Linked DNA regions of Homo sapiens: region 1 is linked to region 2. Evidence: fine-mapped expression QTL. A gene starts in region 2. The other region holds a variant in brackets. All regions are shown on one strand. Distances are from middle to middle.

Evidence for each region. PIP is the estimated chance that this variant, and not a neighbour inherited with it, causes the effect.
Region 1: its variant is fine-mapped to the expression of PBRM1 in whole blood (INTERVAL, PIP above 0.99).

The regions. Positions count from the first base shown.
Region 1 is chr3:52,538,935-52,554,956 of GRCh38, reverse strand. PBRM1 (polybromo 1) reads left to right here. Exons shown (of 32, transcript NM_001405607.1): 29 at 78-233; 30 at 4,140-4,210; 31 at 4,320-4,536; 32 at 6,722-9,590. The coding sequence ends at 6,894. It overlaps UQCC5 (ubiquinol-cytochrome c reductase complex assembly factor 5), which reads right to left. Exons shown (of 2, transcript NM_001124767.2): 2 at 13,067-14,533. The coding sequence ends at 14,472. It also overlaps the pseudogene RNU6-856P. Among named protein-coding and RNA genes, the nearest start is that of UQCC5, 10 kb to the right of the region's middle. The variant A/G (reference allele first, on the strand shown) is at 7,538.
Region 2 is chr3:52,676,009-52,692,030 of GRCh38, reverse strand. It overlaps PBRM1 (polybromo 1), which reads left to right and starts at 6,118. Exons shown (of 32, transcript NM_001405607.1): 1 at 6,118-6,282; 2 at 12,305-12,457; 3 at 13,434-13,531. The coding sequence starts at 12,320. GNL3 (G protein nucleolar 3) reads right to left here and starts at 5,999. Exons shown (of 15, transcript NM_014366.5): 1 at 5,926-5,999; 2 at 5,204-5,262; 3 at 4,648-4,785; 4 at 4,416-4,529; 5 at 3,839-3,922; 6 at 2,825-2,957; 7 at 1,327-1,439; 8 at 960-1,086; 9 at 402-489. The coding sequence starts at 5,938. SNORD136 (small nucleolar RNA, C/D box 136) reads right to left here and starts at 3,144; the gene lies at 2,998-3,144. SNORD19 (small nucleolar RNA, C/D box 19) reads right to left here and starts at 2,791; the gene lies at 2,716-2,791. It also overlaps SNORD19B and SNORD19C. RefSeq lists enhancers at 5,772-5,841, 5,836-6,524 and silencers at 6,162-6,311, 6,382-6,531.

The DNA of each region.
Region 1 (16,022 bases), 140 kb after region 2:
TGTGGGGGTTGGTTGTTATTACTTAGCTCATGTTGCATGTTAATGATGCATGTCTGAAATTTGTTGTGTCCTTCAAGGCATGATGGGTGGCTATCCGCCAGGCCTTCCACCTTTGCAGGGCCCAGTTGATGGCCTTGTTAGCATGGGCAGCATGCAGCCACTTCACCCTGGGGGGCCTCCACCCCACCATCTTCCGCCAGGTGTGCCTGGCCTCCCGGGCATCCCACCACCGGGTAAGAACTTCATCCTCATTCACTCATTAATCTCATCTTCATATTCTCTTTTTCCGCTTTCAACCAGTTGTTCCAGGAGGCACCCGTGGCCCATTGTGGCCAGGCCTTCCCTCCCTGAGAATCCAAAGGTTGTCAGCAGCAGGGCATGTCTTGTGCATTCAGCAGGTGGCCCAGCACTTGTGCCCTTGTGCACCTGGCTGCTGGCAGCAGCACAGCACACATGGCAGAGGCCAGACTCAGCAAACCAAGGGACAAGAGGCATACTCTATCGATAATCACTCAACTAATTTGACATGTCCTTGAAAAGCCAGACAGCCTAGAAGGCTGTGTCCTCTTATCAGTGAATGAAGTTTCCCAAATTGCTAGTTCAGAGTAACATGTAAAAGCATTTTTTGCCCCTGAGTTGCATTTCTCCCTCTGGTGCAATTCTTATCTCACAGGGTATAGAGTATCTGTTCCATCTCCTACTTCTCCTCAAGCAGCCTTTCTAAGGGGATTGCAGAGCTGCTAAGGTAGAACTCTTCAGAAATCTTTCACTCAGTCTGTCTTAGAACAAAAAGCAGGGAGGGAATGCATTTTCACTGAATTAGTGTTCTGTATGTGAGTTCCCTAAGAAGCATGACATGCCAGGTGTAATGGCTCATGCCTGTAATCCCAGCACTTTCAGAGAATGAGGAAGGTGGATCACTTGAGCCCAGGAGTTCAAGACCAGCCTGGGCAACCTGGTGAGACCCCATCTCTATAAAAATTAGCCAGGTGTTAGGCCGGGCACGATGGCTCATGCCTGTAATCCCAGCACTTTGGGAGGCCGAGGTGGGCGGATCACTTGAGGTCAGGAGTTCGAGACCAGCCTGGCCAATATGGTGAAACACCGTCTTTACTAAAAATACAAAAATTAGCTGGGCGTGGTGGCGGGCACCTGTAGTCCCAGCTACTCGAGAGGCTGAGGCAGAAGAATCACTTGAACCTGGGAGGCAGAGGTTGCAGTGAGCCGAGATTGCACCACTACACTCCAGCCTGGGCGACAGCAAGACTCCGTGTCAAAAAAAAAAAAAAAAAAGGAAAAATTAGCCAGGTGTGGTGGCATGTGCCTGTAGTCCCAGCTACTCAGGAGGCTGAGGTGGGAGAATTACCTGAGCCTGGGGAGACTGAGGCTGCAGTGAGTGGTGATCGCACCACTGCACTCCAGCCTGAGCGACAGAATGAGATCCTGTCTCAAAAAAAAAAAAAAAAAAGCCTGACATTAAAGAACAGCCTAGCCTACCCTCCTAGCTGTAGATACTGGTTTGTCTGTCAACAGAAGCTTAGAAGTTCTTTTATATAGAAATATATAAATGGATTCCAGAAATAGCGACATTCATTTTCACTTTAAAATGTGAATTAGCAAGTTGAAAGATTATTTTAAAGAAAACCTAAATGAAAGGAAAATCACATGTTCCCATATTAATTGCCATCATATGCAAAAGAACTCTTAGCTGTAATCTGGATGGAGGGAATGTGACCTTTGGAAGACTCGGAAAGCATTTGGTCCATTACCTACAACATCAGCTAAGGGCCCAACCCAAATGGTAAAATGTGGTTGGAAACTTGTTAAATTTGCTTGTACCAGTGTTGGACCTACCAGTGATAGGGTTTTGCAGGGTACCAAATGATGCTTTGGAGGGTGCACCCAGCAGTGTGCAGAGTGAGCAAACTTGGTGGCCTGGCCTGGAGCCTCCAGCCACACTCTTTGTGAGAGTTGCTTAGAATATGGCCATAATTCCACAGAAGCATTTGCTCCAGGTATTGCCAGAGGAGGAAGTGTTTGTAGGGTTAGGTGCTTCATATGAAAACAGTGGACTGTGTGAATTGCTGTTGCAGCAGGAGTCAGTCATAAGGTAAATGTTCCCATGTGGCAGGTAGACTTGGCCTTAATTTTTTGCCCTCTCACCTTGATACAGGGTATCACTGAGCCAATAAGACCAGGCTGGAGTTTACACCTTCTAGGTGCACTTAGTGGGATCCATGTCTAATGCCAGTACCCTCTAGGTTGCAGATGTCTTTTGGTGGGTGTTGGGACATAGCTGTCTTCCTTTCCACCTTCCTGAAATCCTAAATTCAACTGGAGGGAAGCCCAACACACCTGCTTAGAATTGAGGAGACAGGGCCGGACACAGTGACTCAATCCTGTAATCCCAGCACTTTGTGAGGCTGAGGTGGGAGGATTGCTTTGAGCTCAGCAGTTCAAGACCAGTGGGCAACATGGTGAAACCCCATATCTATTTTATTTAATTAAAAAAGAAGCCAGGAGTCAGGGAAGACCCCCTCTTAGTGCCTACAAATGCACATGTCTGAGCAGGCTTAGAGGAGTAGGGGATTCATTGAGCTCTTTTGGTGACTCAGCTCAGATTCTCACCGGCTGCCCAAGTATGGCATTTGTCAATAGAGGAAGCAGAAGAGTTTGCTGATTTGTGCTGCCCTGCAAAGCAATGATTTACACAGTTTAGGGAGCCACACCGTGTTCTGGAATCTAAGGTGGGTGAGTGTCCCAGGGCACAGGGAGGTGATGGGCACAGAGGTTAATAATATATTGCTGGGGCACCAGCTTACCCACCACAACCTCTTCATTCATTCACGAATAATCATCAGGATCCTACTTTGGTGATCCGGGTGGACTTCTGGGTACTTGGAATATAAAACTCCCTGCTTTTTAAACAGAAGCTTTTTTACTTGTTATTTTCTAACAAATAAGAGGCTCTCTTATGCTTCCTGGAAGTGGCATTTAACAATTCTGAACCTTAGTGCTCGCTTCAGCAGCACATACACTAAAATTGGAACAATATGGAGTTGAGCATGGCACAAGGATGACATGCAAATTCATGAAACAGTTCTGAACTTTAGAATGAGGAGCTGCTTCTGCCTGGACAAAATATTACGATTTTTAATCCGAAGGGACTATACACTATGAAGTTATACCTCCTCTCGATTCTTCTACACAGCCAGCAGGATTTGTTTAAGTTTTCAAGAACAGTTCACCACAGTTTTAGGTTTATTTGATTTTAATGAACTGGGTCCCTTGCCTATTTCTGTATTTTATCAGAATAGCAAATATGCACCCTGAAATCAAAAGAGCCTCTGACACTAAATTTAGGACATCTCATTATTATCAGCTGTGCCTGTGAGACAACAATTGCTCGTGAGCATTCACTGAGGGAAGCTTACAAAATTATTATCAGGGACATAGTACAAATCTAGTAGGGCCATGAAGTCTCTCTGTTCCTTTGTCATTTTGCATATAAAGCAATAGCAACAAGGTTACTTCACTTCAGATGATTCCTTTTCAGAGTGCTACTCTATCAGATGGAAGTGTTCTCTCCCTGCCAGCACTAGTGACTCCAGTTAGAACCAGCTGCTGATGGTCTGGGAGGGGATAGCAAGGCTGTGCCTTCAGCCTTCACAAAGCTCATTTAACTATGCACTTCCACAGCCTCTTCCCTTGTGTCCCTGCTGTCCTAGCACATTGCTTACTGCTGAGCCTGATTCCAGTGCCATTCCTGCTTAAATTAAATACAGGCTTCAGTTGCAGGAGAATGTGTTGTCAGAAGAAAAACACCTTGAATGTAGAGGTATATTCTGACAATAGCTTACCTAGAGAAATACTAGAATTTTATGCAAGGTTCAAATCATTTCTAAGCCATAATTGATGTACATCTGACAGATTGTTCTAGTATTATACTTTAAGTACCTAGAAACAAAACAACTTTCTATTCAAATCCTATTGGGGTGCTTAAGATTCCTAGCCACAAAGATTCAAGGGCAGAGGTACATAGGTTTGAATTATGAATGGCATCATTTCTTATCAGACAGTAGTTTTTCAGTCATTTCAACCCAGAGCCTCTAACTGTGCCATTGCATTCTGAATTATAGGTGTGATGAACCAAGGAGTGGCCCCTATGGTAGGGACTCCAGCACCAGGTGGAAGTCCATATGGACAACAGGTGAGCCTCCCAGTTTGATTTTCTAGGACTTGACAGAATTCGAGTTATCCTTCTCAGAACATGTGCAGAGTCTCTTTTTGCCTCACCATGTGGTCCTGTGCTCTTTCAGGTGGGAGTTTTGGGGCCTCCAGGGCAGCAGGCACCACCTCCATATCCCGGCCCACATCCAGCTGGACCCCCTGTCATACAGCAGCCAACAACACCCATGTTTGTAGCTCCCCCACCAAAGACCCAGCGGCTTCTTCACTCAGAGGCCTACCTGAAATACATTGAAGGACTCAGTGCGGAGTCCAACAGCATTAGCAAGTGGGATCAGACACTGGCAGGTAAGATTCCTTCTAAATAAGCCTTTGTGAAATACATGCTTCCTCAAAGCTGTCTTACTGCTGTTAGCATAGTATATCATACAATAAACACCCCTTTTTCTTATACAATTAAAATAAATTATATATTTCATAAATGGTTTGGAGTTTCTTTGCATGTTTACGTAACACACTGAAAATGGTTTGTTTTGTTTTGTTTTGTTTTTGAGACAGGGTCTCACTCTGTTGCCTAGGCTGGAGTGCAGTGGCGCGATCTTGGCTCACTGCAGTCTCCGCCTTCCAGGTTCAACTGATTCTTCTGCCTCAGCCTCCCCAGTAGCTGGGATTACAGGCACATGCCACCACACCTGGCTAATGTTTATATTTTTAGTAGAGATGGGGTTTCACCATATCAGCCAGGCTGGTCTCAAACTCTTGACCTCAAGTGATCCACCTGCCTCGGCCTCTCAAAGTGCTGGGATTACAGGCGTGAGCCACTGTGCCTGGCCTGAAAATGGTTTTTGGGTTGTTTTTTTTTTTTTGAGACAGTCTCACTCTGTCGCCCAGGCTGGAGTGCAGTGGTACAATCTCGACTTACTGCAACCTCCGACCCCCAGGTTCAAGCGATTCTTGTGTCTTAGCCTCCTGAGCAGCTGGAATTACAGGTGCTCAGCACCACGCCCAGCTAATTTTTTTATCTTTAGTAGAGATGGGGTTTCGCCGTTTTGGCCAGGCTGGTCTCGAACTCCTGACCTCAGGTGATCTATTCACCTCAGCCTCCCAAAGAGCTGGGATTATAGGCATGAGTCACAGCGCCCTGCCTAAAAGTGTTGTTGTGGTTTTTTTTGCCAAATTTCAAAGCCTAGTTTTCTCATAAACATCACTGCCATCTTTTTAAGTACATTGTTTTTTGTTTGTTGTTTTGTTTTGTTTTGTTTTGTTTTTCAGGCATTTGGACATTAGTATAGATGCATTGGGTAAATTAAAAATTATTGGCCAGGCACGGTGGCTCCCACTTTGGGAGGCTGAAGTGGACAGATCGATTGAGTTCAGGAGTTTGAGACCAGCCTGGACAACATGGCAAAACCCCGTCTCTACAAAAAAATTAAAAATTAGCCAGATGAGGGCCAGGAGCGGTGGCTCACGCCTGTAATCCCAGCACTTTGGGAGGCTGAAGCGGGCAGATCACTTGAGGTCAGGAGATCAAGACCATCCTGGCCAACATGGTGAAATCCCATCTCTACTAAAAATACAAAAATTAGCTGGGCGTGGTGTCTGGTGTCTGTAATCCCAGCTACTTGGGAGGCTGAGGCACGAGAATCATTTGAACCCGGAGGTGGAGGTTGCAGTGAGCCAAGATCGCACCACTGCACTCCAGCCTGGGTGACAGAATAAGACTCTGTCTAAAAAAAAAAAAAAAACTATTTTACCTCAGTTTAACAAAAGGAAAAAAATATTAGAAACCGATTAGGCTATTCATTTAGTTCAACATACTTATGTATTTTCAGTATGTACTAAAGTACTTGTGTAGTTTCTGGAGAGAAGTTTGGAAGTTTCTACTTGTTCTTGATTTCTAAACCAACTTTGGTCATCTCATTTCATTTCTTTAGAGTAGAAGGTATATTTTCCCTTTCTTCACATGTTTACCTTTTTAGGAATTTTTGTTAACATTGAAGTAATTATTAAATATCAGGGATGCCTACAAAAAAATAATGATCAGGCCGGGTGCAGTGGCTCACACCTGTAATCCCAGCACTTTGGGAGGCCAAGGTAGGCAGATCACCTGAGGTCAGGAGTTCAAGACCAGCCTGGCCAACATGGTGAAACCTGTCTCTACTAAAAATAGAAAAATCAGCCAGGCTTGGTGGCAGATTCCTGTAATCCCAGCTACTCTGGAGCCTGAGGCAGGAGAATCGCTTGAACCCAGGAGGTAGAGGTTGCAGTGAGCTGAGATCGCGCCACTGCACTCCAGCGAGGGCGACAGAGCGAGACTCGATGTCAAAAAAAAAAAAAAATTTATGATCAAATCTTTTAGTGCCTAGTAAAATGATATAAGAAATGTGCCTGGAAATATTCTGCAGTTAAAATTCATAATATTTAATAAATATTCAATGTTTTGTGTTTTAATAAGTTCGTCAGACCTTAGAACTGAGGGAAATTTTGCCAACTTAAAATTCTAATTTCTGTCTCTCTGTACTTTAATTTTCAGCTCGAAGACGCGACGTCCATTTGTCGAAAGAACAGGAGAGCCGCCTACCCTCTCACTGGCTGAAAAGCAAAGGGGCCCACACCACCATGGCAGATGCCCTCTGGCGCCTTCGAGATTTGATGCTCCGGGACACCCTCAACATTCGCCAAGCATACAACCTAGAAAATGTTTAATCACATCATTACGTTTCTTTTATATAGAAGCATAAAGAGTTGTGGATCAGTAGCCATTTTAGTTACTGGGGGTGGGGGGAAGGAACAAAGGAGGATAATTTTTATTGCATTTTACTGTACATCACAAGGCCATTTTTATATACGGACACTTTTAATAAGCTATTTCAATTTGTTTGTTATATTAAGTTGACTTTATCAAATACACAAAGATTTTTTTGCATATGTTTCCTTCGTTTAAAACCAGTTTCATAATTGGTTGTATATGTAGACTTGGAGTTTTATCTTTTTACTTGTTGCCATGGAACTGAAACCATTAGAGGTTTTTGTCTTGGCTTGGGGTTTTTGTTTTCTTGGTTTTGGGTTTTTTTATATATATATATAAAAGAACAAAATGAAAAAAAACACACACACACAAGAGTTTACAGATTAGTTTAAATTGATAATGAAATGTGAAGTTTGTCCTAGTTTACATCTTAGAGAGGGGAGTATACTTGTGTTTGTTTCATGTGCCTGAATATCTTAAGCCACTTTCTGCAAAAGCTGTTTCTTACAGATGAAGTGCTTTCTTTGAAAGGTGGTTATTTAGGTTTTAGATGTTTAATAGACACAGCACATTTGCTCTATTAACTCAGAGGCTCACTAC[A/G]GAAATATGTAATCAGTGCTGTGCATCTGTCTGCAGCTAATGTACCTCCTGGACACCAGGAGGGGAAAAAGCACTTTTTCAATTGTGCTGAGTTAGACATCTGTGAGTTAGACTATGGTGTCAGTGATTTTTGCAGAACACGTGCACAACCCTGAGGTATGTTTAATCTAGGCAGGTACGTTTAAGGATATTTTGATCTATTTATAATGAATTCACAATTTATGCCTATAAATTTCAGATGATTTAAAATTTTAAACCTGTTACATTGAAAAACATTGAAGTTCGTCTTGAAGAAAGCATTAAGGTATGCATGGAGGTGATTTATTTTTAAACATAACACCTAACCTAACATGGGTAAGAGAGTATGGAACTAGATATGAGCTGTATAAGAAGCATAATTGTGAACAAGTAGATTGATTGCCTTCATATACAAGTATGTTTTAGTATTCCTTATTTCCTTATTATCAGATGTATTTTTTCTTTTAAGTTTCAATGTTGTTATAATTCTCAACCAGAAATTTAATACTTTCTAAAATATTTTTTAAATTTAGCTTGTGCTTTTGAATTACAGGAGAAGGGAATCATAATTTAATAAAACGCTTACTAGAAAGACCATTACAGATCCCAAACACTTGGGTTTGGTGACCCTGTCTTTCTTATATGACCCTACAATAAACATTTGAAGGCAGCATAGGATGGCAGACAGTAGGAACATTGTTTCACTTGGCGGCATGTTTTTGAAACCTGCTTTATAGTAACTGGGTGATTGCCATTGTGGTAGAGCTTCCACTGCTGTTTATAATCTGAGAGAGTTAATCTCAGAGGATGCTTTTTTCCTTTTAATCTGCTATGAATCAGTACCCAGATGTTTAATTACTGTACTTATTAAATCATGAGGGCAAAAGAGTGTAGAATGGAAAAAAGTCTCTTGTATCTAGATACTTTAAATATGGGAGGCCCTTTAACTTAATTGCCTTTAGTCAACCACTGGATTTGAATTTGCATCAAGTATTTTAAATAATATTGAATTTAAAAAAATGTATTGCAGTAGTGTGTCAGTACCTTATTGTTAAAGTGAGTCAGATAAATCTTCAATTCCTGGCTATTTGGGCAATTGAATCATCATGGACTGTATAATGCAATCAGATTATTTTGTTTCTAGACATCCTTGAATTACACCAAAGAACATGAAATTTAGTTGTGGTTAAATTATTTATTTATTTCATGCATTCATTTTATTTCCCTTAAGGTCTGGATGAGACTTCTTTGGGGAGCCTCTAAAAAAATTTTTCACTGGGGGCCACGTGGGTCATTAGAAGCCAGAGCTCTCCTCCAGGCTCCTTCCCAGTGCCTAGAGGTGCTATAGGAAACATAGATCCAGCCAGGGGCTTCCCTAAAGCAGTGCAGCACCGGCCCAGGGCATCACTAGACAGGCCCTAATTAAGTTTTTTTTAAAAAGCCTGTGTATTTATTTTAGAATCATGTTTTTCTGTATATTAACTTGGGGGATATCGTTAATATTTAGGATATAAGATTTGAGGTCAGCCATCTTCAAAAAAGAAAAAAAAATTGACTCAAGAAAGTACAAGTAAACTATACACCTTTTTTTCATAAGTTTTAGGAACTGTAGTAATGTGGCTTAGAAAGTATAATGGCCTAAATGTTTTCAAAATGTAAGTTCCTGTGGAGAAGAATTGTTTATATTGCAAACGGGGGGACTGAGGGGAACCTGTAGGTTTAAAACAGTATGTTTGTCAGCCAACTGATTTAAAAGGCCTTTAACTGTTTTGGTTGTTGTTTTTTTTTTAAGCCACTCTCCCCTTCCTATGAGGAAGAATTGAGAGGGGCACCTATTTCTGTAAAATCCCCAAATTGGTGTTGATGATTTTGAGCTTGAATGTTTTCATACCTGATTAAAACTTGGTTTATTCTAATTTCTGTATCATATCATCTGAGGTTTACGTGGTAACTAGTCTTATAACATGTATGTATCTTTTTTTTGTTGTTCATCTAAAGCTTTTTAATCCAAATAAATACAGAGTTTGCAAAGTGATTTGGATTAACCAGGTTTGGTTGTTCTGTTAAAGTGGTGTCAGATGTTTCAAGCAGATTTAACTCCTGCAAGCCCTGATTTCATGCTGACAAGGTTGTATGTGACTGCCAATTTAAGAGAACAAAGCTCCACAGATGGAGATGAAAGTCAGTGTCCAGACCTCTGGTTCAGGGCTCGGGCTGCATTAACACAGAGCCAAATGTAGTCAGACTGCAGACTGAAGTGCCCCACGCCACGCCTCAGGCTGGCAGTCAAGGAATTCCTACATGTCCTCAGCATGGGCAGAAATGCAGGTTGAAATTAAAATTGGAGAATTACTGAGGGCGGAAAGTGAGGAAAGCATGTAAGCAGTATAGCCCACTTCAAATAGCTTGTCTGTGGCCAGAAGAAACAGGTGGCCCAGGTGTCTTTAACATCTTTATAAACTCTTAAAACATGACCATGCTTTTAATAGAAAGTGTTGGTAAAAGCAACCAACTGTTTTCCTCTAATATCACTTTGCAAATCCCTGTGGTTCTGTTCTCCTGAATTTAGGATAGTACCGGCATCTGTGCCCCTGAGCATATTTTGAACAATCATTGATGTATAGCTAGACATCCCATCTGAACACTGAGCAAACAAATATTGCTATTATTCTGTTCCTTTTTTTTTTTTCTTTTGAGACGGAACCTCACTCTGTCACCCAGGCTGGAGTGCAGTGGTGCAACCTTGGCTCACTGCAGCATGCGCCACCATGCCTGGCTAATTTTTGAATTTTTAGTAGAGACAGGGTTTCTCCATATTGGCTAGGCTGGTTTTGAACTCCTGGCCTCAAGTGATCCACCTGCCTCAGCCTCCCAAAGTGCTAAGGTTACAGGTGTGAGCCACTGCGCCCAGCCTACTCTGTTCCATTTTAGCCTGGAAGTATGTTAGGTCCCTGAATGAAAGTTCAGAACTAAACAAATTAATGGACTGTCCCTTTTCCCTGTTTTGGCTATTTCATGGTATTTACATCTTGCAGATAGCACATAAATGAGACAAGAAACTCCAGATTTAATACTCGTGTGAAGACTAAGCACTAACATGCTTTACTAGGAGATAAATTACTTTGGAAAACAACAGGGTCCAAGAGTGTGTGTGTGCGTATATATATATATTTTTGTTGTTGTCGTTCACGCCATTCTCCTGCCTTAGCCTCCTGAGTAGCTGGGACTACAGGCGCCCAGCACCACGCCCGGCTAATTTTTTGTGTTTTTAGTAGAGATGGGGTTTCACTGTGTTAGCCAGGATGGTCTTGATCTCCTGATGTCGTGATCCGCCTGCCTCGGCCTCCCAAAGTGCTAGGATTACAGGCGTGAGCCACCGCGCCCAGCTAAGAGTATATTTCTTTAAAGAGAGTTAATTCAGTGTGAAAAATTTAAACACACACACAAAATGGAGATTAAATATCACATCAGGGATGTAGGTAAGACTTCCAAAATAGAACTGCTAGATGAACAAAAATAACTCATTTATTCACTACTTTTTTTCTTTCTTTTTTTGGGGGGGGCTGTAATACTGTTGTACTATTATTAGGTACTTTCTCTATAAATTCAGATAATAAAGTGACACTCCAAAGCCCATATTCTTTCCCCAACACCACAGTGGAGGTAGAGTTCTAGTAATAAATGCTAATCAGGTTTTCAGCATTCTGCAATAAGTATAGTTCTTGAAATTTATTAAAATTTATGCCCTGTAGTTTACAGTTGGTGGTACTGCAATTCTTTTCACGGCTTTTTTTTTTTTTTTTTTTGGAGACAGGGTCTCACTCCATTGCCCAGGTTAGAGTGCAGTGCTGGGATCATACTTACTGCAGTCTTGATCTGGCTCAGGTGATTCTCCCACCTCAGCCTCCCAAATAGCTGGGACTACAGGTGCACACCACCAGGCCTGGCTAATTTTTTGTACTTTTTGTAGAGACAGGGTTTCACCACGTTGCCCAGGCTAGTCTTGAACTCCTGGGCTCAAGTAATCCTCCTACCTCAGCCTCCCAAAGTGCTGGGATTATAGACATGAGCCACTACTCCTGGCGCCCTTAAATAGTTCAGTGTCTGATAAGTAGGATAGAGTCATTCCTAGTAGGAGAGTTAAAAATACTTTTGAGGAAAAATTAAAAGCTTATATACCTTAGCTGGGCACAGTAGCTCATGCCTGTAATCCCAACACTTTGGGAGGCTGAGGTGGGAGCACTGCTTGAGCCCAGGATTTTGAGACCAGCCTGGTCAACACAGCAAGACCCTGTGTCTACAAAAAATTTAAAAATTAGCCAAGCATGGTAGCTAGCTAGTCCCAGCTACCTGGGAGGCTGAGGCAGGAGGATCGCTTGAGCCCAAGAGTTCAAGGCTGCAGTGAACTATAATCATGCCACTGCACTCCAGCCTGGGTGACAGTGAAACTCATCTCAAAAAAAGCTTGCACCCTAACAAATGAGTTCTCACTCACAGCATCCAAACTAATGTGCTCTGAAAACCTATCTTCCATTGAATACAATAATTGCTTTGGTAGTCTACCTGCCTAAAAGTCAGAAGTTGTCCAATCTTTTTTTTTTTTTTTTGAGACGGAGTTTCACTCTTGTTGCCCAGGCTGGAGTGCAATGGCGCGATCTCGGCTCACCGCAACCTCCGCCTCCCAGGTTCAAGCGATTCTCCTGCTTCAGCCTCCTGAGTAGCTGGGATTATAGGTGCCTGCCACCACACCCGGCTAATTTTTTTTTTTTTTTTTTTTTTTTTGAGACGGAGTCTCGCTTTGTCGCCCAGGCTGGCGTGCAGTGGCGCGATCTCGGCTCTCTGCAAGCTCTGCCTCCCGGGTTCACGCCATTCTCCTGCCTCAGCCTCCCGAGTAGCTGGGACCACAGGTGCCCGCCACCACGCCTGGCTAATTTTTTGTATTTTTAGTAGAGACGGGGTTTCATCGTATTAGCCAGGATAGTCTCGATCTCCTGACCTCGTGATTTGCCCACCTCAGCCTCCCAAAGTGCTGGGATTACAGGCGTAAGCCACCATGCCCAGCCATACACCCAGCTAATTTTATATTTTTAGTAGAGACGGGCTTTTTCCGTGTTGGTCAGGCTGGTCTCGAACTCCTGACTTCAGGTGATCCACCTGCCTCGGCCACCCAAAGTGCTGAAAGTACAGGTGTGAGCCACTGCACCCAGCCTTCTTTTTTCTTTTAATAGAGACGGAGTGTATGTTGCCCAGGCTGGCCTTGAACTCCTTGCCTCAAGCAATCCTCCTGCCTGAGCCTCCCAAAGTGCTTGGATTACAGGCTTGAGCCACCAACCCTGGCCATCATTTTCAAAGTCTGTTGTCCTTAAATAAATTAACATTCTAATGGAAAGAAGAAAAAGAAATGGAGAGGAAAGCTCTAGAGAAGGCCAACACAAAATTCAGTCTAATGGTTCTCTGTGGGGTGGAAGCAGGGGGATGGGCCAGGGAATGAACCCACAGCAGACACAAAAGTTAGCCAATGGTTTTATTAGTGTTTACTATTATTCTTTGTAAAAGGTATGACGTATTTTCTATATGTATCAAATACTAAACTCCTAAAACAAGGTGGGTTAGGGCAAACATGGAGTATGGCCATATAATTGAGAATCATACTATAGTTTTTATACAGCAGTCAAGTCACTAAAAATGGTTTATCAGGTTAGGTTTACCAGGAATCCTAGATGACACAACTGGGCATGAGAATACGATGAACCACCGTCCTCTCCCTGATGGCAGAGGTCATTACTGGCCTTTCACATTCAAGCCATCTCCCAGCTGTGACTCTGGGCTTGCTGCACTGTAGTGTAGGTAGTGCTTTAAGGAGATGGGAGTAGTTAGTTAATGGTTCTTTACTGAATTGGTTCTAAGATAAGTGGACTAAAATTAGAAGAAAAATCTAGAAAAAATTAGGAGACATGTTTGTGGCAGAGATCATTAACTTGAGGATACCCTATGGCCTTAAGCATCAGCTTTATTCTCATGCAATAGTTAGAAACTATTCTGAAACTTAGTCTTTAGTATGTAGATTTTTTTTTGCTTGAAACGATGTTAGATGTGGCTATGCAAGCATGGAAAGGTATCTGCTTTTTCTACCAGGCTGATCCAAACTTACACTGGGTCAGATTGCCAAATCACTCAATAGACTGAGCCTCTGATTTAGCTCAAGTCTGGGATGCTTTATACTGTGTAGGTTCACTTTCTCATGGAAGGAGCAACTGTTTCTAGCAGCTGAATCGAACAGCAACATCTTCATCCTAGAGTAGTGTGAAACCTGTTGCCCACAGTCCTCATGAAGATCCAGCCCTTGCAGTTTAGGGGAGCCAAGCAAGGGAGGAGCATATTTCTGTTCACAAGAACACTAGCATGAGAAATGCGTAGTCAATCAAGAATTTCCACCACCCTAGCAAAAAGTTTATAGTCTAGTAGCTGGCAGAAATACAACCTGCATAATTATCCTGGTTTAAATGATCTGGCAATAGAGAATGTGTCCATAATTTAATTTGAATTCTGCAAAAAAGTAAATAAGGTTATAATTAGTTGCCTAAAAACAAAGATTGCCGAAAACAATTCGGGCTTCACTGAAAAGCATCCTGATTGATCCTTGAATTGTTTAAGAAATATTTCATGGACTAGATTCATCGAGTGAGTGTTTTAGGAGGAAATAATTTTCCCACAAGTGCTGTCCAGCAGTGACTTGGGAAGTACTCAAGCAGAGACAGAACTATAAAAATTCTTTGCAAAAACAGTTATTGGAATATTGTGCAGCTGATAAAGGACAAGCTGTGTCAGAACAAGAGATCTGAAAAGTATATTTTAAAAGGCACTGAAACCAATAGTAAAAATTCATATTGACTTTATTGACTGCTGAAGTTCAGTCTCATTCATCTTCCAGCCTTCTCTGATACTGTCTTTCTGAGGCTTTTCTACGGTAGACATCATCTGTATCAAACAAAAAGTTGCTCAGATGTTTAAGAAACATATTTAAAATTAAAACAATCTGAATAATTTAACCAATAGTCTAGGTCTGTCACCTACTTCTGAATCTTGGCATTAATATTTAACTCAATGCCAAAATAAACTTAAAACAAAACTTGAGTTAGATGAGGACTATGATAATGGAGTTCTAGACTTAAATAGGGTAAAAGTCAGTGTCTTGAAAGATAGAATCATGTCTTAGCACATCTCTTAGTGTTTTAAGATGTCCCTCACTTCCTTCTCCCCCATAATTTCTATTCTGTGCTCTGAAGTCATCCTTCTTAACTAAAACCTGGCTCCTCAAAGGCACTTCTTGCCTCTTGGCTCTCTGATGCTCCCTCTCCCATATCCAGAAACCTTCAGGTGGGGAGAGGAGATCAGTTTCCTTGTTCCAGCTGCTGCTTTGCCAGACCTTTGACTCGCCACCTTCATGTAAAGAATCTTCTTTCCAGGCCGGGCACAGTGGCTCACGCCTGTAATCCCAGCACTTTGGGAGGCCGAGGCAGGCGGATCACAAGGTCAGGAGTTTGAGACCAGCCTGGCCAGTATGGTGAAACCCCGTCACTACTAAAAATACAAAAATTAACCGGGTGTGGTGGCAGGCACCTGTAGTCCCAGCTACTCAGGAGGCTTAGGCAGGAGAGTCGCTTGAACCCAGGAGGCAGAGGCTGCAGTGAGCCAAGATCGTGCCACCACACTCCAGCCTGGGTGACAGACCAAGACTCTGTCTCAAAAAAAAAAAAAAAAAATCTTCTTCCTTCATGGCTCATGCCATTTGTCTGCCACCATCTTTCTTTGGCACCTGCTCTCCATCATGCCCCTTCAGTCACCAAAAGTGCTGGCCTCTGGCTCAGGTTCCTTGACCCTGTCCTGTGCCTTCTCCCCAGATACCACCATTACCCATGGGGATGAAGCTCCAGTACCCTTCACCTTCAACATCTTCCAGTCACTTGCAGGGCTCCTCTGAAGGATTTCTGTTCATACCACAACCCCCGTTACCTTTCCAGCCCTCCTGTCCTTGGACCTCACGTTTCTTCCCCAGGTCCTTGGCCCCGTCTTACCCGCTCAGCCGCTTCTTGTTCTCTCTCCTGGCAAATCAGCTAAAATTCCTTCATACTCTTGTCAATATCTTAACTTCCTGACACACCCTCAAAACCCCAACCACAGATTAATCCAACTTCCTCCCTTCCCCATGCTTCACCCTGCTTGCTGTGTCCTGAGGGGCCAACTGATGCCTCTAACTGGGTCCACTGAGGTGTCTGACAATCCTGTTTCCTCAGCCATCATCCTGACTCTTTTTCACCCACCCCCAAATGGCCATTTCCTCTCTTCCTTCACAGAGGAAAGTCATCATAAGGAACTCTTCCAGCTAACTTCCAAGGGCTTACTCCTGTCACCCAGCTCTGGTCCCACCCTCTCAAGGGTCCAGTATCTCCAGCCTCTCTCCACCCTC
Region 2 (16,022 bases):
CTTTCACCAAAAGCTTTAAAAAATAAAAATAGGCCGGGCGCGGTGGCTTGGCCTGTAACCCCAGCACTTTGGGAGGCCGAGGCGGGCAGATCAGCTGAAGTCAGGAGTTTGAGACCAGCCTAACCAACATGGAGAAACCCGTCTCTATTAAAAATACAAAATTAGCCGGGCGTGGGGGCACATGCCTGTAATCCCAGCTACTCTGGAGGCTGAGGCAGGAGAATCACTTGAACCTGAGAGGTGGAGGTTGCAGTGAGCCGAGATTGCGCCATTGCCCTCCAGCCTGGGAACAAGAGTGAAACTGTCTCAAAAAAAAAAAAAAAAAAAATCACCTTCCTTGAGATAACCAAAATAAAATAGTGTGTCACTATAATATTACAATTATGGACACCTCCATTTACCTTGTAAGCCCCATGGATACACCAACATTACACATCTGTTCTTGTTTTAAGCTATTGATAATGCTGCTTTTCCCCACATTTGGGAAACCTACAAATAAATGGGAAATCCAGATATAAAAAGCATTATATGTTGGCACTTATGAAATTTTCACTGCCTAATTTTCCATTTCCCTGATGTTTAGGGCAAGATCAGAGTTGGATCTCAGTGTCTTCACTTCAATACTAAGACCAATTTTAGTTTCTTCATTTCTTGCACAAGTAATGCAAAGGCAGGAAAATACTATAAATTCAAACAAACCAAGAACTTTTAGAAACCAGCTTCCTACAGTAATCAGTCCCAACAAAAAACCTGAATCTGGCAGCAGTTGTGTAAGTTTTTTTCTTTAAATTGTGTGTGGTTATGTGCTTTCAGTAAGGTATAAGCAAGAAGCTAGTATTTGAGTGAGCCTTTTACTTGACAACAACTCCATACACTGCTGCTTGGGCACTTGGAGAGCTGGCTAAACTTCTTAACTATTTCAACACTTAAAAAGTAAAAAGTAATGAACTGAAACTCACCAATTACTCCAACCCGAATGGCTTTGCTGCAAGTTTCCTGAAAACCTCCAAGAAGTTTCCAAAGGCCCTCTTTCCCAAAGCAGACTTCACTTCTGAATGGAGCAGCATTCTTCTTTGCCTTCACACGCTAAAATTCCAAATAGTTGAATTATTCTGGCAACTTACCTGATAAATTTCAACAAACCCCAAGCAATCAGGCTCCAGAGCCCAGCTCTTAAGATAACTACATTGCCTTTCAGATGATCTCTGGCTGAAATCAGAGTTGGATCTTGTAATTTTTCATTCACTTAAATCAAGATTTTGTACACTCATCATATTTCAACCAAAATCTGAAAGAATCACATTTCTTACCACTAATAAAGGATACCTTGGTTATCTTCCCTTTATCCTTTGGTTTTGTTGAGGCTCTGAACACCACTGTTGGCAATTCTTTCTTCAAATAATTTAGCCAGCTCTCCAAATTCTCCTTTGGTACCAGATCTGATAGCAATTAGAAATAAGACATTTGCGGCCAGGCACGGTGGCTCACGCCTGTAATCCCAGCACTTTGGGAGGCCGAGACAGGCGGATCACGAGTTCAGGAGATCAAGACCATCCTGGCTAACACGATAAAACCCCGTCTCTACTAAAAATACAAAAAAATTAGCTGGGCGTGGTGGTGGGCACCTGTAGTCCCAGCTACTCGGGAGGCTGAGGCAGGAGAACGGCGTGAACCCGGGAGGTGGAGCTTGCAGTGAGCTGAGATGGCGCCACTGCACTCCAGCCTGGGTGACACAGCAAGCCTCCATCTCAAAAAGAAAAAAAGAAAAAGACATTTGCTCCAATGTGGCTATTTTGTTGAGATGCATTTGCAAAATCTGGCAACTATAGATTTTACTCTGGTTTACATTTTCCCAGTCCTTTCAAAAGGATTTAACTAGAAAATCAGGGCAGGGTAAGCTCCCCTACCATACTGCCCGTATCTTAACAGAGCTCAGCATCTGCACTTCTCTATTTCAATTCCCCTTGTATTGCTCACTTGAAAACTTCAGGACAGACTCAACGTCTGGATTACAACCCTACTAACCCTAGAGCTATGTTTCCAGAATTTACCTTTAGCTAGCAGCCAATTGTTTCTTCATTTTTGAGACGAAGTGTTGTTGCCCAGGCTGGAGTGCAGTGGCACAGTATCGGCTCACTGCAACCTCCGCCTCCCGGGTTCAAGCAATTCTCCTGCCTCAGCCTTCCGAGTAGCTGGGACTACAAGTGCCCATCATCATGCCCGGCTAATATTTGTATTTTAGTAGAGATGGGGTTTCGCCGTGTTGGCCAGGCTTTTCTCGAACTCCTGGCCTCAAGTGATGTGCCCACTTCAGCCTCCCAAGCAGCCAATTGTTTCTTAACCCCAACAACAATTTTAGATCTCATTCCCATTTTCTGCTTTGTAATTCTCTGTTCTGGGTTTTCTTTTTCCTGCTGCTCAAACTCAGATGCATAATTATGCATTTCATTTAAATATTTTGTCACATACGTTCCAATTTATTTCACTCTTGAACTAATACCCGACATTGTGTAGGTGTGGGGAATTTGTCACACTGTCATCACTTCCTAGATGAAATATACTACACAATAAGCTGGGTATAGCAGCTTACACTCTTTATTTAAAAGATGGTAAATACTGAATGGCAAAAGAATAGTAGAAACCAGTTGAGTCAGTTGTAAAAGTCACCTGGCTCCCCACTGCCTAGCACTGTCTCTGGCAAAGTGCACGTACTCTGGCTTTGCTGAGATCAGAGTTGGATCTAATCAGTCTTCAGTGACTATCAGACTGTTTCCTCGTACCTCACCCATGTACACAGAAGACAAAGGGTACCCTCTTTACTCACCTGATTTATTTAATATAAGTACCAGCTTTTTCTGTCCACTCTGGACAATGGCCTCTTCTACCTGAGGACATCTGCAACCAAGAGGATCTCTGGCATCCAACACCTCTAGGACAACATCGGAGGCTTCAATCACCTATCAAGGAAAAAATGACCAGAACTACATTATCAAGGAGAAAATGATCAGAACTACATCCCTTGTTCTGGTAATACCTTCCACAAGAGAGTACTGGCATTATCCATTTAGCAACAGGGTGAGCTCAGAGTTGGATCTCATGTCTTCACTTTGGTATGAAGAATGTTGACCCTCATCATTTCTCACACAGGAAAGTAAAACATAGGCTTGCTCAGCAGTCTCTGATCAAGATGGATTTCAAAAATGCAAATATCCCTGTCTGAATCCTCCCATAGTGAATTATATAGTTTGATAGGTCCTTCTGGCCTTGCCAAAAGCTGCTGAGGGGCAGTCAGGTTCTATCCATGGGGGAGTGAGCTTGGGAAAATGGATGTTGGGGATGGGAGTGCTGGAGAGCAACTACACCAAGTTGTCCTCCTTCACTTAGGTTTCAACAGAGTACTTTAGAGACCTTTAGCCTGACACTGCTTACTCCAATGTACCTTTCTCAATCTCAACACTATGTCAACGTTTTTTTTTAATGTTGTAAATCATGCTTACAGGCAGAACCAGTTTTGTGCAAATATTTAGAACCAAAGAAACTATTTCCGTCAGGTAAACATAGCAGGAAAGGCATTAAACAGCATAAGCTAGAGTCGAGTCACGAAATGATTTGTTGGTGAAAAGGTGGGAGGAGGGAGAGGATCAGGAAAGATAACTAATGTCGTACTAGGCTTAATACCTGGGTGATGAAATAATCTGTACAGCAAACCCCTATGACGCAAGTTTACCCATATAACAAACCTGCACATGCACCCTTCATCTTAAAAGGTTAAAAAAAAAATGACTTGAGTCTTTTAAACCTCATTACTACTGTCAGACACTGACCTAGGCTAAGATACCTTTTTAAGTTCTTGGCAGTACAGCTTCTTTGAATTCTGTTTGCCCGACTTGGCTTTGTTCTCAGTTTTGCAAAGCCCAAACTCCTAGAGGATAAAGGGGGAAATAACACAAAATTAGAAGTAGAGCAACTGTAACCTCTAACTCCATTTTCCACAGCTGAGTAGCAGCCCTTGCAGTTGTTAAATAGGTAAGATGGAGTCTGAACTCAGTTGTCTTCCTCCCAAGAAGCTCAGCAGCCTGTGGATGTGCTTTTATTTCTGCATCAGAACTCATCTCTCAGCCAGGCACAACAGCCCACACCTGTAATACCAGAAACTTCGGGAGGCTGAGTTGGGTGGATCACTTGAGACCAGCCTTGGCAATATAGTGAAAGCCCGTGTCTGCTAAAAAAAATTAGCCAGGCGTGATGGTGTGCTTCTGTAGTCCCAGCTACTTGGAGACTGAGGTGGTAAGACTGCTTGAGCCTGGGTGGTCCAGGTTGCAGTGAGTTGTGATTGTGCCACTGCACTCAGGCCCAAGCAAAAAAACCAAAATCAAAACCCCTGATCTCTCATTCATAAAGAGACCTAATCATACCTTTTCCATAGGTTCCACATTTGATGGCTTAATATCAGGATTAGTTTCAAGTTTTCTTTTCTTTTCTAGTTCCTTCTGCCTGTCAAGTTTCTGCTGCTGTTTTAGTTCTTCAAGCTGTCAGAGCCATAAGGGAAATAGGTGAACCAGTGACTAGTGTTGTTACCTTACTCTGAAAAATATCACACATAACACACTACACCACTCAATGAAAATTCTGGCTAACATAACTTACCCTCTGTTTCCTTAGCTCAGCTTCCCTAAGAAGAGCCTCCTTAAAGGGAGCACTGTTTGGAACTCCTGGGTCTTTCCTAGGCTTCTTGTGACCCCGCTTTTTAGCCTCCTTTCTTAATTTTCGATGATGTTCTCGAACCTATTAAAATAAAGAGATTTTGTCTGCTTACAAAAATATCTTTATACTTAAGCAGAATTCAAGTGAGAAACCAATCTGGCTGCAATTTAGTTATGCCTATAAAATGTCCTAGGAAAATGGAGCTTTAATTGGAATCTTACAAAGTAATGCATATGTAAGTATAAAACAGCAAGAAATTGTAACTAGAAGGCTCTCTATGCAGAGATTAACATGCTGAACAAATTTAGAGACTTATCACCAAATCACTGCACTTTCTCACAGCTGCACTCCTGATGCCTAAGAGCTTGTGCCCATGGTCAGTCTATCCAATGCCATTTCCCAAAACCAAATCACATTAACCCAGACTTTCCCGCAAAGGAACAGGGCAAAATCAGTTTAGCAATGTGTTTGGTACAGCTCTCTCAAGCACTACACTTACCTTTTTTTGGATTTTATACCGCTTATGGCAGGTCATGCGTTTACTTGCTTTCTTTAACTCTACAAAGAAACACATCACAAATCTGTTAACCCAAATGATTAGTTCTGGGTTAACGCACTATGGAGTTATATCCTTTTCTTGTGTTATTGGCTACCAAACCTAACGTTAAGTCTAATGCGAAATGCCTAATGCAAACATACGTGCTACTTTCAAATCCCAGAGAATTAAATTCAGTAGATCCAGAATGGAGTCAAAATTCCCTGCACTTACCCTCACAATATTAGAATGGGATCATACACAACAGCGTATGAGACACAAAACGACAACCACTTCGTGTCAAACAGCACGAATCATAAGGCAGGAGAGGAACACTGAGTCTGGGAGGCGATTCTCAGCTCTCACCTGGGCCAGTCTGCACGTGGCCACGGAAAGAAAATATTGGGCCTCAAACCTGGCTCAGACGCTGCTTCCTTACGAAAATCTAGCCTAGTCTTCCCCACCCTCTGCCCGGCTTCGTTCCGCAGAATGAGCCCGCGCGGTTAACATGATCGCCGTAGGGACTTCCAACTCTCGGTTCTACCAGGAAATAGGGCCAAGGCCTACGCGTAGGCTCCCACCCCCATACCAGCAGAGACAAAGCCGTAGCCGTAGAAGAGCGTCGTGGTGGCTGCAGCAACTTCCAGACGTGGGTCCCTCCACGCCCGCCTCCCGACCCCACTTACTAGGCCTTTTCATATTGGCTGTAGAAGGAAGCACAAACACATCAACCTGCCTCCGCTGGCGCCACGTGTGAACTGAAGCCACTGACGAGCGTCACGCACTTACGCTGCCGCCGTAAAGTGCGTCACCGCCTCTCTGCGTGCGCGGGCACGCAGTGTCGCGCGGAGCAGGGATCGCTTGGCGGCCGCGGGACTGGTTTTGCGGCGGCACCGGGAGGGGTAAGGGAGGTGAGGGCGGCGGGTGCCGAAGCGACGGCAGCGGCCGCGGCCGGAGGAGCAATAGCAGCAGCCGTGGCGGCCACGGGGCGGGGCGCGGCGGTCGGTGACCGCGGCCGGGGCTGCAGGCGGCGGAGCGGCTGGGTAAGGCCGGGCCCAGGGCGGGTGGGGCCGCTCCCCCTTGGTCAGCTGCCGGGCCTTTGTGTGGGCCCGGGCGGGCGGGAGCCGCGGCGGAAGCCCCGCCCCGGCCGTGGGGACGCGCGGGTCGGGCCGGGCGCGCGGGGTTGGGCGGGGCGCGGCGGCTGGCCTCCGGATGGGCCCAGTAGCCTTGTCGCACCTGCCGGCAGGGACAAAGGCGCACTACGGGTCGGAAACTCCCCGCGCTCCTCTTTCCCGCTCGTCGCGGGGCAGCTTCAAAGCTGTCAACGTTTCCCTCAGTCCCCAATACCAGTGACAGGTCGGGAAAGTCCTTCATTTCCTCCGTTGCTCAGGGCCTCTTTTTTTTGTTGTGGTTTCTTGACGGTTCGACACAAACTCTTAGTGATTTTCTTTCCGTATTTTTTCCGGGTATTTTAATCAATGGGACTTGTATTTATAGTAGAGGCCAGATATTTCAGCTTCTCAACACCACAAAGAATCCGGGATTTTGGGAACTGTGTATATTTCTTGGTTTGGGGAAGCACAGTTTTGTTATTATAATAAGTTTTAATTTAAAGGGGAAGAAAGAGTTGCAAAAATATAGAAAAAGCCCTGAAAAATAAGTACACGGTATAGTGGATATAGAAATTCTTACAATAATTATAGAAGCGTATGTTGGGGTGAATTGTTTTAATTAACTTACTTTCCAACACAGGATTCTTGACAAATAATTTTAGGTATTATTTTTTTCTCCATTTGGCTATGTGCTTTTCCCCAAAAAGTGCAAATTGGACTCATGCACATAAAAGAGTAGCATAATTTTTGCTTTATTACTTACAGGTCGCCCATATTTGATTTTGAGCTCCAAAATGGAAGATTGGAAAATATGTTTTGAAGAGGTGTTTCAAATTAAAACAATAAAGAGTTTATGTGTGGATGAATGGAAGGGCCTTGACCGCTTTCTTTGGCTTTGGGAATGTACAAAATACCTCAAATGTTAATATCCTACCAAAATTCCCAAGATAAGTAAATTGTGGTGTATCTATATGATAGATTACTATCAAGTCATCAAACATCATGAGGAAGAATGTTGACTTGGAAGAACCTTCACTAAAACACAGGCTGTAGAATAATATATGTGGTTTGTTAACATTTTGGTAAAAAATAATAGGTAACTAAGGCATAAATACCAAAAACCGAATGACAACGTTAAGAGTGGTTTTTTTCTTGGAAGTAGGTTTATAGGTGTTTTTTTTCCTTTGAGTCCTGTTTTCCAAGATTTTGTTTTAAACATGTATTGTATTGCTAAATATTACTAGAAATATAGGAGAGGGCTAAAGTTCATAAACGGTCGAAATACACTGTTTGTCTATAGTAAGTCGATATTCTCCCAGTTGCACATTATTAAGTATTCTTAACTGTCCACTATAAATTATTGATTGTTAGACTTTTGAACTTGTAACTGTAATCAAGGCCATTTTAAAACTTGGCATTGAACTCTGGAATCTGTCTTTCCTCTTCATGGAAAGACAAAATTGCTGAAGGGATGCTTACAGGCATTTTTTTTTTTTTTTTTTTTTTTTTTTTGAGACAAGGTCTGACTTTGTTGCCCAGGCTGGAGTTCAGTAAAGTGATCATGGCTCACTGAAGCCTTGTGCTCCTAGGCTCAAGCAGTCCTCTCACCTCAGCATCCCAAGTAGCTGGGATTACTGATGTGCAGCACCACACCCAGCTAATTTTAATTTTTGTAGAGAAAAGATCAATCTATGTTATCCAGTCTGGTCTTGAACTCTCTGCCTCAAGCGGTCATCCTGCCTCAGCCTCTCCAAGTGCTGGGACTACAGATATGAGCCCCTGTGCCTGGCTGAGGACTTTTAAACTATACAAATAAACTTTTTTTTTTGAAGGTCTCAAGTGCACTTTTTTTTTGTTTTTTTTGGAGACAGTCTTACTCTGTCCCCCAGCCTGGAGTGCAGTGGCGCAATCCCAGCTCACTGCAATCTCTGCCTCTCTGGTTCAAGCAATTCTCGTGCCTCACCCTCTCGAGTGCCTGGGATTACAGGTGCATGCCACCACCTTGCCTAGATAATTTTTTGTATTTTTGATAGAGACGGGGTTTCACCGTGTTGGCCAGGCTGGTCTTGAACTCCTGACCTCAGGTGATCTGCCCACCTCAGCCTCCTAAATTGCTGGGATTACAGGCATGAGCCACTGTGCCTGGCCCTAAGTGCACTTTTAATACATTTATTAAAAGATAAACTGAGCACATAACCTATACCAAATACTATCCTGTAAGACAGGTCTACAAAAATGAATATGCTGTTCCTGTGCCTGGGGAACATGCAGAAGTGATTTCACTTTATGTTGTTTTTTTTTTTTTCTTGAGACGGTCTCGCTCTGTCACCCAGACTGGAGTGCAGTGGTATGATCTCGGCTTGCTGCAACCTCTGCCTCCTGGGTTCAAGCAATTCTCATGCTTCAGCCTCCCAAGTAACTGGGTTTACAGGCATGCACTGCCTCAGCCAGCTAATTTTTTTTTTTATTATTTTTTTGAGACAGAGTCTTGCTCTGACGTCCAGGGTGGAGTGCAGTGGTGCCATCTCGGCTCACTGCAACCTCCGCCTCCCGGGTTCAAGCGATTCTCCTGCCTCAGTCTCCCAAGTAGCTGGGATTACAGGTGCGTGCCACCAAGCCCAGCCAATTTTTTTTGTATTTTTAGTGGAGACGGGGTTTCACCGTGTTAGCCAGGATGGTCTTGATCTCCTGACCTCAGGTGATCCATCCGCCTTAGCCTCCCAAAGCGCTGGGATTACAGACATGAGCCACCGCACCCAGCTAAATTTTTGTATTTTTCTTTAGTAGAGACAGGGTTTCACCACGTTGGCCAGTCTGGTCTCGAACTCCAAGTGATGCACTGGCCTCGGCCTTCCAAAGTGCTGGGATTACAGGCATGACCCACCACTCCCGGCATTACGTTCTTATTTTAGAGATGAAACAGATCTGAGAGGTTACATCAACTAATCAGACAACATCAAGCTGATAATCAGAGGTGGAAGACTTAGGACTCCTATTCTGGTCTTAGGAGCAAAGGTCCTGTTGTTTCTCCCACCTTATAACATTGCCCTTCTTGTCAGACTTTCAAAATACATTTTAAAATGTGTCCCATGGATAAGAAAATACTTGAAAATTATCCTTAAGTTGAAACTTTTTCTTATCTTACCAAAGTAAATTAATGATTCAAGGATATTGGGATATTGTGTCATCCGAACGACATACACATGCTGATAATGTATTTTTTTGTCATTTGATTTTCAGTGGATTATTTATAAAAGTAATTTTGAACTCCTGCCAAAATGGTTGGCCCTTTTTTTTTTTTTTTTAACCTTGTCAAATTTTTATATGGTGTCTCCAATGCAGATAGGACTTTTGGAAATAAATGTTCTTTCTCTGAATTTTTTTTTTGTGGGGGAGGGTGTTTTCCAGACCTTTTGCTCACATGAGCCATTCTTGGTTTGTTCCAGCTTGCCAACACTTGGTGTCACATGTGAGCCTCCCACATGTATTCACTCTCCATTCCAGCTCTGTGATTGAACTCTGCTCTTATTGACTAGGGGGCAGTTGGGCAGGCATGCCTCATTCCTGGAATTGACAGTCATTCCTAATGTGAGTAAAGGGGAACCTCAATGAGACATCTTTAAACATATGAAAGCATTTGGTTTTAAAATGGAAGAACTGTCAGGTACTGTTAGTGCCTGAGCCTTTGCAGCAGTTTGTTTGATAGGTACAAGAGAACTGATATGCCTGTTTTCTCCAGTTCTCTTTATCTTTCTTTAGCAGTTCTATTTGAATGTTTTCTATCTATTCGTACTCATTTTTACTCCTTCTGACCCTTCTTTTCTATTTCCCCCTTCTCTGCCTTGTTCTTCTTTTTCAGTTTTGAATATACTAACACTGAATCAGCACTTCTAAAGCCCTTCCTTCTCCCACTGGCTTCACTTGGCTTTCAGACATAATGAGGAGACTGGCTTTTCGAGGCGCTGGTTGTGCTCTGGTAAAGCTGGTAAATTACTGATTATCTACACCCTTTCCCTTTTCTGTCCTTCCTTGACTTTTTCCTTCCACCTTTCTTAAATTTTTGTTATCCTTTCCACAAAGATTCCCTCCTTATGTTCATCAAATTCACTTGTGTCTTTGTCATAGATTGTTTAAAAGGGATTGGTCCTTAATTTATCTTAATGAATTGAGTCCTGTTGATCAGCTTTTTATAAAATGAACAAAAATCAGCAAAACTTGGCTAAGTTTTGGCTAAGCCTTTTGACGATTTTAACTACTTTTAGCCAACTTCAAACTAATAATACTGTATAACAAACCGAAGCCTAGAGTAAGGAACATCATCGTGGTAGATTTTGTTTTAAACACCATGTGGACTTTAGTTTGGAAAAAGAGATCTGAGACTTCTCTTTTTCCTTAATTGCTCACCAGGATTTTCAAATGTGATTCTTTTGCTCCTTCTTTCTGTTTCCTGGAGATCCCCAACCTTTCTTTCCATACTGCTGGCAACCAGTGTTCTCCTGTTCTAATCATTCAGCTGCTGGTGTCGTAGTGTCCTGAAATTCAGTGTTTCCATGTGCCTTACAATTATGAGGTACTCTAGTTCTATGAGGTTCCTCATAATTGTAAGGCACATGGAAAAGCAGATGAGGTGCTGACTCAAGAAGTGAATACCTTGGGGCCTCTGAACCCCAGGCCTGCCTGACTACCTCAGGGGCTGAAGGATCAATACCTTCAGTGTTGATGAGTGAAACTGGGATCTTTTTTTTTCTTTTAGCTTTAGAAAAAGGCCTTTGACGGGCGGATCACGAGGTCAAGAGATTGGGACCATCCTAGCCAACATGGTGAAACCCCGTCTCTACTAAAAATACAAAAATTAGCTGGGTGTGATGGCACACGCCTTAGTCCCAGATACTCTGGAGGCTGAGGCAGGAGAATCGCTTGAAACTGGGAGGTGGAGGGAGGTTGCAGTGAGCAGAGATCGTGCCACTGTACTCCAGCCTGGTGACAGAGCGAGACTCCACCTAAAAAAGAAAGAAAGAAAGAAAGAAAAAGGCCTTTCAAATCACAATATACTATTTGATAGTATTGTTAGATTGTATTGCAATATAAGCATTGCAGGACTTTCTTGGGTATATACTATCTGTAGCAGATCATTCAGTGGTTGCATTTCTTGTGTTGTAAATAGAGTTATAGTTAAAATTGTTATAGTTAAATAGAGTACGTGTTATAGTTAGAGTATGTCATATCACTAAAAGGTGATTAGTTTGAATTAACAGAAGAGTTTCAAAGGATAGTTTGTACCTCTGTCTAGGTATAGCAAGTCTCATTAAGTGTTTTCCAGGGATATGTCTTGTGGATCCTGTTTTAATGAATGGAGAACATTCATTTTCAGGGTTTTAATTTTAGAGTACATCTAAAGTGCTAGAAGGTTAATTGTCCTCTGTCCCCTTACCTTTTTGCACTACTCATTTGTCCTGGGCTCTGCTTCTTGCTCTTTTCCACATGATGGCCCACCTAGCAAATGATCATAATTGTAAGGCACATAGAGAAGCAGATGAGGTGCTGACTCCAGAGGTGGATACCTTGGGGCCTCTGTACCCCAGGCCTGCCTGACTGCCTCATGGGCTGAAGGCTTAATACCTTCAGCACACTAATGTACTGCTACATATAGGTTGGGAAACTCTAGGCCAAATTTGGAGCCAGAAGTTGAGTCATTCAAGATTGCTGATATACAAATGAATATGCTTTTGTTGAATTTGTCCCATCAAAATTGGAAGTATAGCATTCTGGTAAGTGAAAGACTAAAACAAGGAAGTCCAGGGCTTAAAAAAAAAAAAAAACTTATAGCTAGTTAAACTACAACACGTTAAAATATCCTCCTAAGTGAGCCAGGAGTTTGGTAGCAGGTGTCCAGCTGAAGACTTGGTGACAGAGTCTATTTAAATGTAAGAACATGGCTGATTATTTCTTATAGAAGAAGTTGGATTCCATGGGTTCCAAGAGAAGAAGAGCTACCTCCCCTTCCAGCAGTGTCAGCGGGGACTTTGATGATGGGCACCATTCTGTGTCAACACCAGGCCCAAGCAGGAAAAGGAGGAGACTTTCCAATCTTCCAACTGTAGATCCTGTGAGTAACTTGGATTACATGGTTTCTGCCTGCTCTTCCCACAATTCCCCTATCTTCCCTTTAATGGTAAAATTGTTACGATGCAAGGCATCTCCACTTTTTTAAGATTCTCTTGATTAATAGTCTTTTCTTTTATGAACATTATGTATTCAGCTAAGTCTTAGAGTAATAGTGTGATCTTATGAATAATTTCAGTATGTTACATCATATATTAATTCAGCAAATAACTGTGTGACTATCATGTGACAAGCACTGTTCTCATGGTTGGGATATAGCCATGTGGAAACAAGCCCATTTTTCACATGGAACTTAGATTCCAGGCGGGGGAAGTAGAATGTAAACAAGTAAACGAATAAAGAATAATGTATCCTTAGCTAGTAATAAGTGCTAAGAAGAAAATTTTGGGTGATTTGGGCTGTTTTGGCCTGAATTCGCTGGAAGAGAGTTCCAGACAGAACCAGTGCAGAGGGGTTGGGTCAGGGATGAGTTTTGTGTGTCTTGGTTACAGAGCAGGGGATGGTCAGGAAGGAGAAGGAAACTGGCAAGCTCCACCCATTCAGAGTATGTAGGGCCCACACAAGCAATGTTTGGAGTTTAGATTTTATTCTCTGTGAAGTGATAAACCCTTCTGTCAGATGGCTTTAAGCAAGAGAGTGATAAACTGATTTAGTTTCAAAGAAGAAAACCCTTCAATTGGATGACTTTAAGCAAGAAAGTGATGAACTGATATAGTTTAGAAGACAAAATCACCAGGAGCATAAATCTGATGAAAGATACCAAAAAGTTAGTCAACTCAGTTGTTTGAAAGGAGACATATTGTCAGCATATTTCAGACTTTAGCATGTTTGGTAATATTGAGAGTCATCATTTTTCTTCTCTACTTGCCTTTTATTGAAGAGTAGAAAATAATTCTTATGTCTACACTGGCTTTCTGTTCACTTTTTTAGTGATTTTTTTCTCCTTTGCTAATGTGTAGATTGCCGTGTGCCATGAACTCTATAATACCATCCGAGACTATAAGGATGAACAGGGCAGACTTCTCTGTGAGCTCTTCATTAGGGCACCAAAGCGAAGGTGAGTTCGAAGCACATCAGTACAGTTGCGGGGGATTTGGTCCAGAGTCCATGTGTATTAAAGTGTTTGGAAATTGAGCTTTTTGTTGGCAGGAATGGCTTAAATGATACTGGGGTCCAATTTTAGTCTTTAGTCTTTAGTAATCAAGCTGTAGTGAAGCTTTTTTTAAATTAAAAATCTGTTGAGCCAGGCACAGTAACATGCACCTATAATCCCAGCTACTTGATTTTTTGAGCCAGGCACAGGAGCATGCACTTGTAATCCCAGCTACATGGGAGACTAAGGCAAGAGAATTGCTTGATCCAAGGAGTATGACACCAGCCTGGGCAACATAATGAGACCCCGTCTCTTAAAAACAAAAACAAAAAAAATGACCTATGCGGAAAGATCTCTTGAGGCCAAGAATTTGAGACCAGCCTGGGCAACATAGTGAGACCCATCTCTACAAAAAATTTTTTGAAAAATTAGCCAGGTGTGGTGGTGCTCACCTATAGACCCAGCTACTAGGGAGGCTGGGGTGGTAGGATTGTTTGAGCCTGGGAATTTGAGGCTGCAGTAAGCCATGAGTGTCACTGCACTCCAACCTGGGTGATGGAGCAAGAGCTTGCCTAAAAATAAATATTTAAAAAAGAGTACTGACCAGGCACAGTGGCTCACGCCTGTAATCCCACCACTTTGGGAGGTCTATAGGTGGGCAAATCACCTGAGGCCAGGAGTTCGAGACCAGCCTGGCCAACATGGCAAAACCCTGTCTCTACTAAAAAATACAAAAATTAGCCAGGTGCAAGGCTGGGCGCAATGGCTCATTCCTGTAATCCTAGCACTTTGGGAGGCGAAGGCGGGTGGATCAGCTGAGGTCAGCAGTTTGAGACCAGCCTGGCCAACGTGGTGAAACCCCGTCTCTACTAAAAATACAAAAATTAGCCAGGCTTGGTGGTGGGCGCCTGTAATCCCAGCTACTTGGGAGACTGAGGCAGGAGAATCACTTGAACCCGGGAGGTGGAGGTTGCAGTGAGCCGAGATCGTACCGTTGCACTCCAGCCTTGGTGACAAGAGTGAAACTCCATCTCAAAAAAAAAAAAAAAAAAAAAGCCGAGCATGGTGGTGGGGCGCCTGTAATCCCAGCTACTTGGGAGGCTGAGGCAGGAGAATTGCTTGAACCTGGGAGGCAGAGGTTGCAGTGAGCTGAGATCCCGCCACTGTATTCCAGCCTGGGTGATAGAGCCATTCTGTAGGTTGCCTTTTCATTTTGTACGGTGTCCTTAGATGTACAAAAGGTTTTAATTTTCATGAAGTTTATGTTGTCTTTTTCTCTTGTTGCCTGTGCCTTTGGTGTCATATCCATGAAATTAATGCCAAATCCAATATCATGAAGCTTTTCCCCTATGTTTTTGTATTAATCAGGGTTCTCTTGGACAGGACTAGGCTGCAAATTTTCCAAACTTTTATGCTCTGCTTCCCTTATAAAACTGAATGCCTTAAACAGTACCCAACTCACCTCTTGAATGCTTTGCTGCTTAGAAGTTTCTTCTGCCAGATACCCTAAATCATCTTTCTCAAGTTCAAACTTCCACAGATCTCTAGAGCAGGGGCGAAATGCCCCAGTCTCTTTGCTAAAACATAACAAAAGTCACCTTTACTCCAATTCCCAGCAAGTTCCTCATCTCCATCTGAGACCACCTCAGCCTGGACCTTATTGTCCGTATTGTTATCAGGCTTTTGGTCAAAGCCATTCAAGTCTCTAGGAAGTTCCAAACTCCCACATTTTCCTGTCTTCTTCTGAGCCCTCCAAACTGTTGCATCCTCTGCCTGTTATCCAGTTCCAAAGTCGCTTCCACATTTTCGGGTATCTTTTCAGCAGCGCCCAACTCTACTGGTATCAATTTACTGTATCAGTTGGTTTTCACACTGCTGATAAAGACATACCCGAGACTGGGAAGAAAAAGAGGTTTAACTGAACTTACAGTTCCATATGGCTGGGGAGGCCTCAGAATCATGGTGGGAGGTGAAAGGCACTTCTTACATCAGTGGCAAGAGAAAAATAAGCAAGAAGCAAAAGTGGGAACCCCTAATAAACCCATCAGATCTCATGCAACTTAATCACTATCACGAGAATAGCACGGGAAAGACTGGCCTCCATGATTCAGTTACCTCCCTCTGGGTCCCTCCCACAACATGTGGGAATTCTAGGAGATAACAATTCAAGCTGAGATTTGAATGGGGATACAGCCAAACTGTATTGGTTTTCCTCTAAGAGTTTTATAGTTTTAGCTCTTACATTTAGGCCTTTGATCCATTTTGAATTTTTATAAGTAGTGTTTAGGTAAGGATCCCGCTTCATTCATTATTTTTTTTTTTTTTTTTTTTTTTTTTTTTTTTTTTTTTGAGACGGAGTCTCGCTCTGTCGCCCAGGCTGGAGTGCAGTGGCGGGATCTCGGCTCACTGCAAGCTCCGCCTCCCGGGTTCACGCCATTCTCCCGCCTCAGCCTCC